3 linked regions of the Homo sapiens genome follow. The protein of the gene in region 1 interacts with the protein of each later gene in a pairwise test. Each region holds a gene or a part of one and is shown in the gene's direction. Other genes may lie near its edges. The genes, in order: CSNK1G1, MKRN1 and WDCP.

What was found.
Region 2: the proteins of CSNK1G1 (region 1) and MKRN1 interact in a two-hybrid assay, tested with the Homo sapiens proteins (one large-scale study listed by BioGRID and IntAct).
Region 3: the proteins of CSNK1G1 (region 1) and WDCP interact in a two-hybrid assay, tested with the Homo sapiens proteins (one large-scale study listed by BioGRID and IntAct).

Annotation. Positions count from the first base shown.
Region 1 is NC_000015.10:64,349,597-64,353,249, reverse strand, and holds part of CSNK1G1 (casein kinase I isoform gamma-1), read left to right. Parts: intron 1-3,653.
Region 2 is NC_000007.14:140,469,442-140,473,094, reverse strand, and holds part of MKRN1 (E3 ubiquitin-protein ligase makorin-1), read left to right. Parts: intron 1-1,083; coding exon 1,084-1,212; intron 1,213-3,653. UniProt on the Homo sapiens protein: E3 ubiquitin ligase catalyzing the covalent attachment of ubiquitin moieties onto substrate proteins. These substrates include FILIP1, p53/TP53, CDKN1A and TERT.
Region 3 is NC_000002.12:24,033,844-24,037,496, reverse strand, and holds part of WDCP (WD repeat and coiled-coil-containing protein), read left to right. Parts: intron 1-3,653.

The DNA of each region.
Region 1 (3,653 bases):
TATTTTCAAATGTAATTTATACTCAGAGGACAAAAATCAAATAACTTCCTGTAATAATAGATGTTTGTGAGAATACAAAGTTTGCAATTCAGTTTGACCTTTTTTGAGAAGTTCATAAGTTTTGTGTAAATTTGTGAGAAATTTTCTTTTCTTTTTTTTTAAAGACAGATTCTTGCTCTGTCACCTAGGCTGGAGTGCAGCAGCATAATCTCTGCTCATTGCAATCTCCGCCTGCTAAGTTCAAGCAGTTCTCGCACCTCAGCTTCCTGAGTAGCTGGAACTACAGGCGTGTGCCACCATGTCCAGCTAATTTTTGTGTTTTTAGTAGAGAAGGCGTTTTGCCATGTTGGCCAGGCAGGTCTCGAACTCCTGACCTCAAGTGATCCGCCAGCTTTGGCCTCCCAAAGTGCTGGGATTACAGGCATGAGCCAACACACCCAGCCCTGAGAAATTTTCAAATATATTTCTTCCCCATGTCTCTTTGTTTTATAAAGAGTTGAAATTAGGCCAGGCATGGTGGCTCATGCCTGTAATCCTAGCACCTTGGGAGGCCGAGGTGGGCGGATCACCTGAGGTCAGGAGTTTGAGACCAGCCTGAGCAACATGGAGAAACCCCATCTCTACTAAAAATACAACATTAGTCAGGCATGATGGAGCATGCCTGTAATCCCAGCTACTCGGGAGGCTGAGGCAAGAGAATCGCTTGAACCCGGGAGGTGGAGGTTGCGGTGAGCCAAGATTGTGCCATTCACTCCAGCCTGGGCAAGAGCAAAACTCCATCTCAAAAAAAAAAAAAAAAAAAGAAGAATTCAAATTATGTTTTGTGATAGTTACAGAGTTTTGGTAAGGTTATTTAGCTTTCTAAATGGCTCTTCTGAGAGTGTAAGGTCTGTATATATCTAAGCTTTCTGCTGTGTTTTCTTTTATCTTTTCACTTTTTTTTTGAGATGGAGTCTTGCTCTGTCACCCATGCTGGAGTGCAGCGGCACTATCTTGGCTCACTGCAACCTCCGCCTCCCGGGTTCAAGCAATTCTACTGCCTCAGCCTCCTGAATAAGCTGGAACTATAGGCATGCGCCACCATGCTGGCTAATTTTTGTATTTTTAGTAGAAACGGTGTTGGCCATGTTGGCCAGGCGGCTCTCTAACTCGTGACCTCAGGTGATCCACCCACCTTGGCCTCCCAAGGTGCTGGGATTACAGGTGTGAACTGCCCTGCCCGGCCTGCTGTGTTTTCTCGTATCATTTTTTTATCATCCTTTAAATCTTAAAGTTGAGATCATATGCTTTGGTAAAGCTCTCAGAAGCTCCCACTTTTTCCCCTGTCTTCTTCTCAAACTATAATACTGTATTAATATTTTTAAAAATCTTTTTTGTTTTTGAGACGGAGTTTCTGTTACCCAGGCTGGAGTGCCCAGGCTCAGCTTACTGCAGCCTCTGCCCCTCAGGTTCAAGCGCCCCTCCTGCCTCAGTCTCCCGATTAGCTGGGATTACAGGTGTGCGCCAGCATACCTGGCTAATTTTTGTATTTTTAGTGGACATGGGGTTTTGCCATGTTGGCCACGCTGGTCTTGAACTCCTGGCCTCAAGTGATTGGCCCGCCTCAGCCTCTCAAAGTGCTGGGACTACAGGCGTGAGCCACCGTGCCTGGCCCGATAATCTATTAATTTTGATATAAGAGATAGTATACTAGCTGCTAGAGTAAAAAATTCTATCTTAATTGTGTGCAATGAATAGAGACGGTTAGAGATTTCTCAATCACCACTTCCTCTCAAAGTCTGTGGCCGTTCCAAGGATCTTTGCAGTTGTCAGTTATGGAATTTGCTTGTCAGGAAATCTAAAAATGACTAAACCTTTGTTTAATATCTATCTCTTGGATGACCTCAGAAAGTTTTAGGAAAGATTGGGAAGGTTTATATATGTACCATATACTAGAATTAGATAATGAACAAAATACAGCTGAATTTATTGGCGCTATACAATCAGGAGTGAGTTACTGTGAAAATGTTATTAAAAAGTCCAGGCGGTGCTTTCTTTTTACTCAAACCAAATGAGTATTCTTCCAGAGCTCATTTTTATTTTAAAGCATATTTCTTTTATGGAGCTGTGATTTAGTCTCTAATAAGGATAAATAATCATTATATAAAAAAAGGCTGGTGTCATAGATTTTAGTACTACATATTGATAGAAACTGCTTCAGTGGTTTTAGATAAGTGTATTTTCCGGAAATAACTTTTGAATTTGTGGAATGATAGTTTTTCTCTTTTTAACAGTTAACTTGTCTCTACTCATTTCTGCCCAATATAGAAGCTCTGAGAAGCTGGGAGGAAAAAAAAAAAGAAAAAGAATGGATTTACTTCAGAATTACCATTTTAAGTTGTGGAGATTACTTATTTGGAGAGCAAAATTGGATTTTGACATTATTGGGATTGTGTTCAAGATGGACTCAGGAAAAAAAATTTAGATGCCATCTGTTTCAGATTCCTTCTCTCCCAACCCCTTTTATGTTTTATGGCTTTGAGTTCATCAGATTATTTTGTAAAAATAAAAATCCTCAGTAGATTTAGGTTATATAATATCAGCTCTATCAGTGAACATGTAACCAAAGATCTTGCATTTTTATATTGAGTTATACAGGATGATGACAGATACTGTTTAAAGTTAATTGTTATTTCAAACTATATGAATGGTAACTTCATGCATCTTTTAATTCTCACTGTTCACTTGATAAACCAATTTTTTTTTTTTGGAGACAGAGTCTTGCTCTGTTGCTCAGGCTGGAGTGCAGTGGCGTGATCTTGGCTCACTGCAAGCTCCATCTCCCGGGTTCACGCCATTCTCCTGCCTCAGCCTCCGGAGTAGCTGGGACTACAGGTGCCTGCCACCACACCCGGCTAATTTTTTTTCTTTTTGTATTTTTAGTAGAGACGGGGTTTCACCGTGTTAGCCAGGATGGTCTCGATCTCCTGACCTTGTGATCCGCCCGCCTTGGCCTCCCAAAGTGCTGGGATTACAGGTGTGAGCCACCGCGACCAGCCGATAAAACCATTTTTATAAGTAGTATTTAACATAGTCCACTTGTTGATGGAAGCTTAAAAAATTGATAAAAAGATATTTTAGATTAAATCTTTATTCACTTGATGTCTTAAAACCAGAAAAGAAGCTTCTTCTGAGGATTTTTAACTTAAAACAAGCTTACTTAAATTTACTCTTTCAGTAGTGGATTTTATCTTACCCTCTGTGCCAGTTGCTTAGTTTTCATCTAAATGTGTGCACATAGTTGGCACTTTTCATTTGGGATTTTTTTAATTTTTAATTTTTTTTTTTTTTTTAATTTTTGGAGACGAGGGTCTCAGTGTGTTGCTCAGGCTGGTCTTGAACTCCTGAGCTCAAGTGATCCTTCCACCTCAACCTCCTGAGTAGCTGGGATTACAGGTGCTAACCACCATGCTAGGTTCATTTTGGATCTTAATAAATTCTGACGGCAGGCTTTTGGGTTACTAAACTGTAAAAGACCAAACTTGCTGAGGTTATAACCTTAACTTAGCGGACCAGAAAGACTCAGTCATCTCAGAGAAATTGAAATAGCACTAGTGTGGTATCCCAGAAATGGCCTAAAGAGAGAGCCATCTGGATAGAAGCCATGCTTTGTC
Region 2 (3,653 bases), on another chromosome or scaffold:
GATGGAGTCTCTCTGTTGTCCAGGCTGGAGCGCAGTGGCTCAATGGCACGATCTCGGCTCACTGCAATCCCTGCCTCAGCCTCCCGAGTAGTTGGGATTACAGGTGCCTGCCACCATGCCCGGCTAATTTTTTGTACTTTTAGTAGAGATGGGGTTTCACCATATTAGCCAGGATGGTCTTGATCTCCTGACCTCGTGATCCATCCGCCTTGGCCTCCCAAAGTGCTGGGATTACAGGTGTGGGCCACCACGCCTGGCCCTTTTTTTTTCTTTTTGTTATGTAAGTTAAACAGTTTTCATAATCTAAGGCGTATTATTATTACATTTTTTTGAGACAGAGTCATAGTCGTGCTCCATCACCCAGGCTGGAATGTCAAAATAGTTCGTTGTAACAATGCAAAAACAAGGGCCAGGCGCAGTGGCTCACGCTTGTAATCTCAGCACTTTGGGAGGCCGAGGTGGGCAGATCACAAGGTCAGGAGATCGAGACCATCCTGGCTAACATGGTGAAACCCTGTCTCTACTAAAAATACAAGAAATTAGCCGGGCGTGGTGGCGGCGCCTGTAGTCCCAGCTACAAAGCAAAAACACAATGCAAAAACGGACTAATACACTTGCTTTACTCCTGTTTTCTTATCACCTTCTTTTTATTTTTTTTTTTTGAAATGGAGTCTTGCTCTGTCTCCCAGGCTGGAGTGCAATGGCGCGATCTCGGCTCATTGAAACCTCAGCCTCCCACGTGTAAGCAGTTCTCCTGCCTCAGCCTCCTGAGTAGCTGGGATTAACATGTGTGCCACCACACCAGCCAATTTTTGTATTTTTAGTAGAGACGGGGTTTCACCATGTTGCCCAGGCTGGTCTCGAACCGCTGGTCTTAGACCCCTGACCTCAGGTGAGCCACTCACCTCAGCCTCCCAAAGGTACTGGGATTACAGGCATGAGCCACCATGCCTGGCCCTTTCTTTGTGTTTATTTCGTATGTTTGTGTATTTACTGGTTGAATATATTAGTCATGAATACTAATTAGTTTTAATATTTTCAAGGATTGGTTTTAATCCAGTTTTGTGGTCTTTCGTCTCACAGGTATTTTATGCATGGGGTTTGTAAGGAAGGAGACAACTGTCGCTACTCGCATGACCTCTCTGACAGTCCGTATAGTGTAGTGTGCAAGTATTTTCAGCGAGGGTACTGTATTTATGGAGACCGCTGCAGGTAAGAATTTGTTTATAAATTTGTTCAGGGGTGGGTTGGAGGAAAAAGGTAAAAGACATACTTCTGATAGCTTTATATGTCACTGATTAAAAATAATGCTTTGAAAATGACTCTTGGCTGGGCAGTGGCTCATGCCTATAATCCCAGCACTTTGGGATGCTTAGGTAGGAGGATTGCTTGATCTTGGAAGTTTGAGACCAGCCTGGGTAACCTAGTGAGACCTCATGTCTACAAAATATAGAAAAATTAGCTGGGCATGGTGGTGTGCGTCTGTAATCCCAGCTACTTCGGAGGCTGAAGCAGGAGAATTGCATGAACCCGGGAGGTGGATGTTGCACTGAGCCAAGAGCCCGCCACTGCGCTCCAGCCTGGGCAACAGAGCGAGACTCCACCTTAAAAAAAAATTGGGTAGGGCTTTTCTATCCTCCTAGTTCAGAAATGACTAGGTGTATTATCTGTGGATGTTAAACAAGTAACCCTCAAATTTATTTTTTATTTATTTTTTTGAGACAGGGTCTTACTGTGTTGCCCAGGCTGGAGTGCAGTGGTGTGGTCACTTCTCACTGCAGCCTCAACTTACCAGGCTGAAATGATCCTCTCACCTCAGCCTCCCAAGTAGCTGGGACCACAGGGATGCACCACCTCATTTATTTAGTTTTTTGTAGAGATGGGGGTCTTAATATGTTGCGTAGGCTGGTCTCAGATTCCTGGGCTCAAGCAATCTTCCTGCCTTGGCCTCCGAAAAGTGTTGGGATTACAAGCATGAGCCCCAGAAACTGGCCCATCCCCAAATTTAGTAGGTTAAAACAGTGAACATTTATTATCTCAGTTTCTGGGGTTCCGGATTCTGTGAGTGCCTTAGCTGGATGGTTCTATCTCAGAGACACTTATGAGATGGCAGTCAAAATTTTAGCAAGTCATCTGAAGACTTGATGGGGACTCCAGGATATTTTTTGTGTGTGTGAGACCGAGTCTTGTCCCTCTGTTGCCCAGGCTGGAGTGCAGTGGCAAGATCTCGGCTCACTGCAACCTCTGCCTCCCAGATTCAAGCAATTCTCCTGCCTCAGTTTCCCAAGTAGATGGGATTACATCTGCGTGCCACTATGCCCGGCTAATTTTTTATATTTTTGGCAGAGACAGGGTTTCATCATGTTGGCCAGGCTAGTCTCGAACTCCTGACCTCAAGTGATCTGCCCACCTCGGCCTCCCAGAGTGCTGGGATTACAGGTGTGAGACACAGTGCCCAGCCAGCATTGTTTTTTGTTTGTTTGTTTGGGTTTTTTTGTTTGTTTTGTTTAGGATGGAGTCTTGCTCTTGTCGCCCAGGCTGGAGTGCAGTGGCGCAATTTCGGCTCACTGCAACCTCCGCCTCCTGGGTTCAAGCGATTCTCCTGCCTCATCTTCCGGAGTAGCTGGGATTACAGGCGCCCGCCACCACACCTAGCTAATTTTTGTATTTTTAGTAGAGACGGAGTTTCACCATGTTGGCCAGGCTGGTCTCGAACTCCTGACCTCAGGTGATCCACGCGGTTCGGCTTCCCAAAGTGCTGAGATTACAGCCGTGAGCCATGGTGCCTAGCCCAGTATTGTTTTTAAGAGGTCTTACTCTCATGACTGTTGGCAGGAGACTTTGGTTTCTCACCACTTGGCCTTTTTTTTTTTTCAAGACGGAGTTTTGCTGGTCACCCAGGCTGGAGTGCAATGGCATGATCTCAGCTCACTGCAACCTCTGCCTCCCGCGTTCGAGAGATTCTCCTGCCTTGGCCTCCAGAGTAGCTAGGATTACAAGCATGCACCACCACACCTGGCTAATTTTTTTTTTTTTTTTTTTTTTTTTGAGACAGAGCCTAGCTCTGTCGCCAGGCTGGAGTTCAGTGGCACAGCCTCAGCTCACTGCAACCTCCACCTCCCAGGTTCAAGTGATTCTCCTGCCTCAGCCTCCCGAGTAGCTGGGATTACAGGCATGCACCGCCACACTCAGCTAATTTTTGTATTTTTAGTAGAGATGGGGTTTCACCTTGTTGAAAGGATGGTCTTGATCTCCTGACCAGCCCACACCAGCCTCCCAAAGTGCTGGGATTGTAGGCATGAGCCACCGCGCCCGGCCCACACCCCACTAACTTTTGTATTTTTAGTAGAGACGGGGTTTCACTATGTTGGCCAGGCTGGTCTCAAATTCCTGAGCTCAGGCAGTCCACCTGCCTTTGCCTCCCAAAGCGCTGGGATTACAGGCGTGAGCCACCCCGCCTGGCCCACATGGGCCTTTTCATAGGGATACTTTAGTATCCTTGCAGCTTGGCAGCTAGCTTTCCCCAGAGCAAACAATTTAACAGAGGAGGCAAGGAAAAGCCACAATGCCTTTTATGACCTAGTGTCAGAAGTCATATACTGTTATTTCCACTGATTCTGGACTAAGTTACTAAGTCCAGCCCACATGTAAAG
Region 3 (3,653 bases), on another chromosome or scaffold:
GATAGGCGCACATATCAGTCTGCATCATGATTTTATCAGGTGCATGACGTGGAAAAATAAATGTCTGCACTAATTCGGGCAATTTATATTTAGAAAAAAAATCATGTTATTTCATTGTGACAACCTTTTCCTTATATAATAGAGATACTCCTCCAGTTATAAAAAAGGTTATGTTGCTGGGCTCCATGGCTCACGCCTGTAATCCTAGCACTTTGGGAGGCCGAGGCAAGTGGATCACCTGAGGTCAGGAGTTCGAGACCAGCCTGGCCAATGTGGTGAAACCCTGTCTCTAACAAAAATATAAAAATTAGCTGGGCATGGTGATGGGCGCCTGTAATCCCAGCTACTTGGGAAAGCAGGAGTATCACTTGAGCCCGGGAGGCACAGGTTTCAGTGAGCCGAGACTGTGCCACTGCACTCCAGCCTGGGCAACAGGGCGAGACTCCGTCTCAAAGAAAAAGGAAAAGGTTATGTTCATTTAAAATGTTTTGATGCATTTCTTTATGCATGCATGTCCAAACATTATATAAGTGGGATCATATTATACATGTTTTTATCATGGACACTTTCCTCCTATATAAAATATGGCCTTGCCCCATCTTCCCCTTAATCCGCTGTAACCAGCAGCTTAACATGGATCCTTTCGTGACTTTCTCCATGGTCACATGATCTAACACAGGTCTTTGTGTACATAGATATATAGGTATGTGGGAATGGTTTGTCATTGTTTTTACAAAAATAGGGTGATATGGTGCACTCTTTACTTCATACTGAGAGTATGCTCTTTATTTAGCCATTCCCTTGTTGATTGACATTCACTTTGTTTTTAGTTTTTAGCTACTCCAAATGATGCTGCAGTAGTACTCTTATATGTATCCATTCATATTAGTACCTTTATTTCTGTTGGATTGGTTCCCAGAAGTAGAAATGCAAATTTGAAGAGTATATGTGTTTCTACTTTTAATTGAGTTACCAGATTGCCTCTCAAAGATTTTTACTTAACAGTGCATCATCACACGCCCGCCAGCTATGTATAAGGCTGTCCTTTTCCTCGTATGTCACCAATCTGATCAGTGACCCTCCTGCTTCAGCCTCCTGAGCAGCTGAGACTACAAGCACATGCCACCACACTTGGCTAATTTTTTTTTTTTTTAGCAGAGACAGGATCTTGCTATGTTGCCTAGGCTGATCATGACCTCCTGGGCTCAAGTGATAGTCTTGCCTCAGCCTCCCAAAGTGCTGGGATTACAGGTGTGTGCCACTGCATGTGGCCCCAACCCTACATTTTTTTAAAGAGGATTTTTGCCACATTAACTACATGGAGTTTTCAGTAGTAGAGTTTTAATTTTTTTTTTTAAGTCACAGCTTTGCTGTGAGGAGCATTTTATTTTATTTATTTATTTATTTATTTATTTATTTATTTATTTATTTTTGAGACGGAGTCTCTGTCACCAGGCTGGAGTGCAGTGGCGCGATCTCAGCTCGCTGCAACCTCCAACTCCCAGGTTCTAGCAATTCTCCTGCCTCAGCCTCCCAAGTAGCTGGGATTACAGGCACGTGCCACCACACCTGGCTAATTTTTGTATTCTTAGTAGAGGCGGGGTTTCACCGTGTTGGCCAGGATGAGCTCAATCTCCTGACCTTGTGATCTGCCCGCCTTGGCCTCCCAGAGTGCTGAGATTACACGTGTAAGCCACTGCGCCCGGCCTAATTTTTTTTTAATTAAAAAAAATTTTTTTTTAACTATAGAGACAAGGTCTTGCTATGTTGCCCAGGCTTGTTTGGAAGTCCTGGGCTCAAGCAGTCCTCCTGCTTCAGCCTCCCAAAGCGCTGGGATTACAGGTGTGAGCCACTGCACCCAGCCATAGTTTTGATTTTTTTAAAATTATTTTATTTATAAATGTGATAACTGGTTTGGATTTCTTTCCTACTATGACTTTTTAAAGAGTTTGTTTTCTTTTTCTTCTGTCTTTTTTTAATAGGTAATTCATTTATTTGGTTTAAAAAGCAAAACTGTATTTTAATAAAAACTGTATACCAAGAACTCTTATTCCTACCCTATGTTTCTTCAGCCTGTTCTCCTTTCCTCCTTTAGGTAACCATTTTTATTTTTATTTCTTTATGCAGATACTAGCAGACTTTAGTTATGTATTTTTATTTCCCCTTTTGTTACACAAAAGGGAAGGTGATATACACACCTTTTCATTTTCCATTTAATAGTATGTCCTAGAGAGCTCTTTATATCAGCACACAGAGCTCTTTTTTCATCTTTTTTTCCACAGCTGCATAGTATTTTTTTTTCCTAATTACAAAAGTAATATATACTTGTTGAGGAAAAAAATTTTACCATTACAGAAAGTAAAAATTTTCCATAATCCAACCTTTAGAGAAAATCACAGATATAGCTAAATATTTTATTAGATGTTAGATGTAAATATTTCCATATTTTTTCTGTACATTTATCTAATCCAAAAAAAATCTAATATAAAAATATATTATTTTTAAAATTTTCTTTAAATAGGCTATTTTACTTGCAAACAATAATATATCTTTCTGTTTTTAAAACACTTATAAATGTAAAATTTTATATTTTTAAAAACTAAGGTTAAAACAACCATGTTTGGCCAGGCACAGTGGCTTAAACCTGTAACCCCAGAACTTTGGGAGGCCGAGATGGGTAGATCACTTGAGTCCAGGAGTTCGAGACCAGCCTGGGCAGCATGGCAAAACCCTGTCTCTACCGAAAAATACAAAAATTAGCCAGCCGTGATGGCACCCACCTGTTTTCCCAGCTACTTGGGAGGCTGAGGTGTGAGGATCACCTAAGCTGAGGAGGTTGAGGCTGCAGTGAGCTGTGATCGTGCCACTGCACGCCAGCCTGGGAAACAGAGCAAGACTCTGTCTCAAAAAAAAAAAAAAAAAGTTTTGTTGCCCTTTCAATTCCTCAGTTTTTTAGTTTATAATTATGTCATCCAACCAAGCTGTTGTCAGTAGTTATCTCTGGAGGATAGAATTTTGGGGGCTTTACTGTCTGCATTATATATTTCTGTTATATTTTTATTTTATTTATTTATTTTTAGATAGAGCTTTGCTTTGTCACCCAGGCCGGAGTGCAGTGGCGCGATCTTGGCTCACTGCAACCTCCGCCTCCTGGGTTCAAGCGATTCTCTGCCTCAGCCACCCAGGTAGTTGGGATTACAGGTGTGCACCACCACACCCAGCTAATTTTTGTATTTATAGTAGAGATGGGGTTTCACCATGTTGGCCAGGCTGGTCTCGAACTCCTGACCTCAAGTGATCCACCCGCCTTGGCCTTCCAAAGTTCTGGGATTACAGGCGTGAGCCACCACACCCGGCCCTATTATACTTTTAAAAAATTGATCATTTATTCCTTTTGTAATGAGAAAAGTAAAAGTTACACAATAATCAAAAGCAAGAAATAGTTTCCCCTGTAATTTCAGAAATTACATTTCATAAGACGTGAAATAAATGATTAGTTGGTTTTGACTTTTACAGTTTATTCCTGTGACTTCATTTAAAAATATTAGTGGACATATTCTTTGAGTGGTTCATCCTACCACAGTGATGTATAGTTTTATTTTCTTTTTATGAGATGGGGTCTTGCCATGTTGCCCAGGCTGCTCTCCAATACC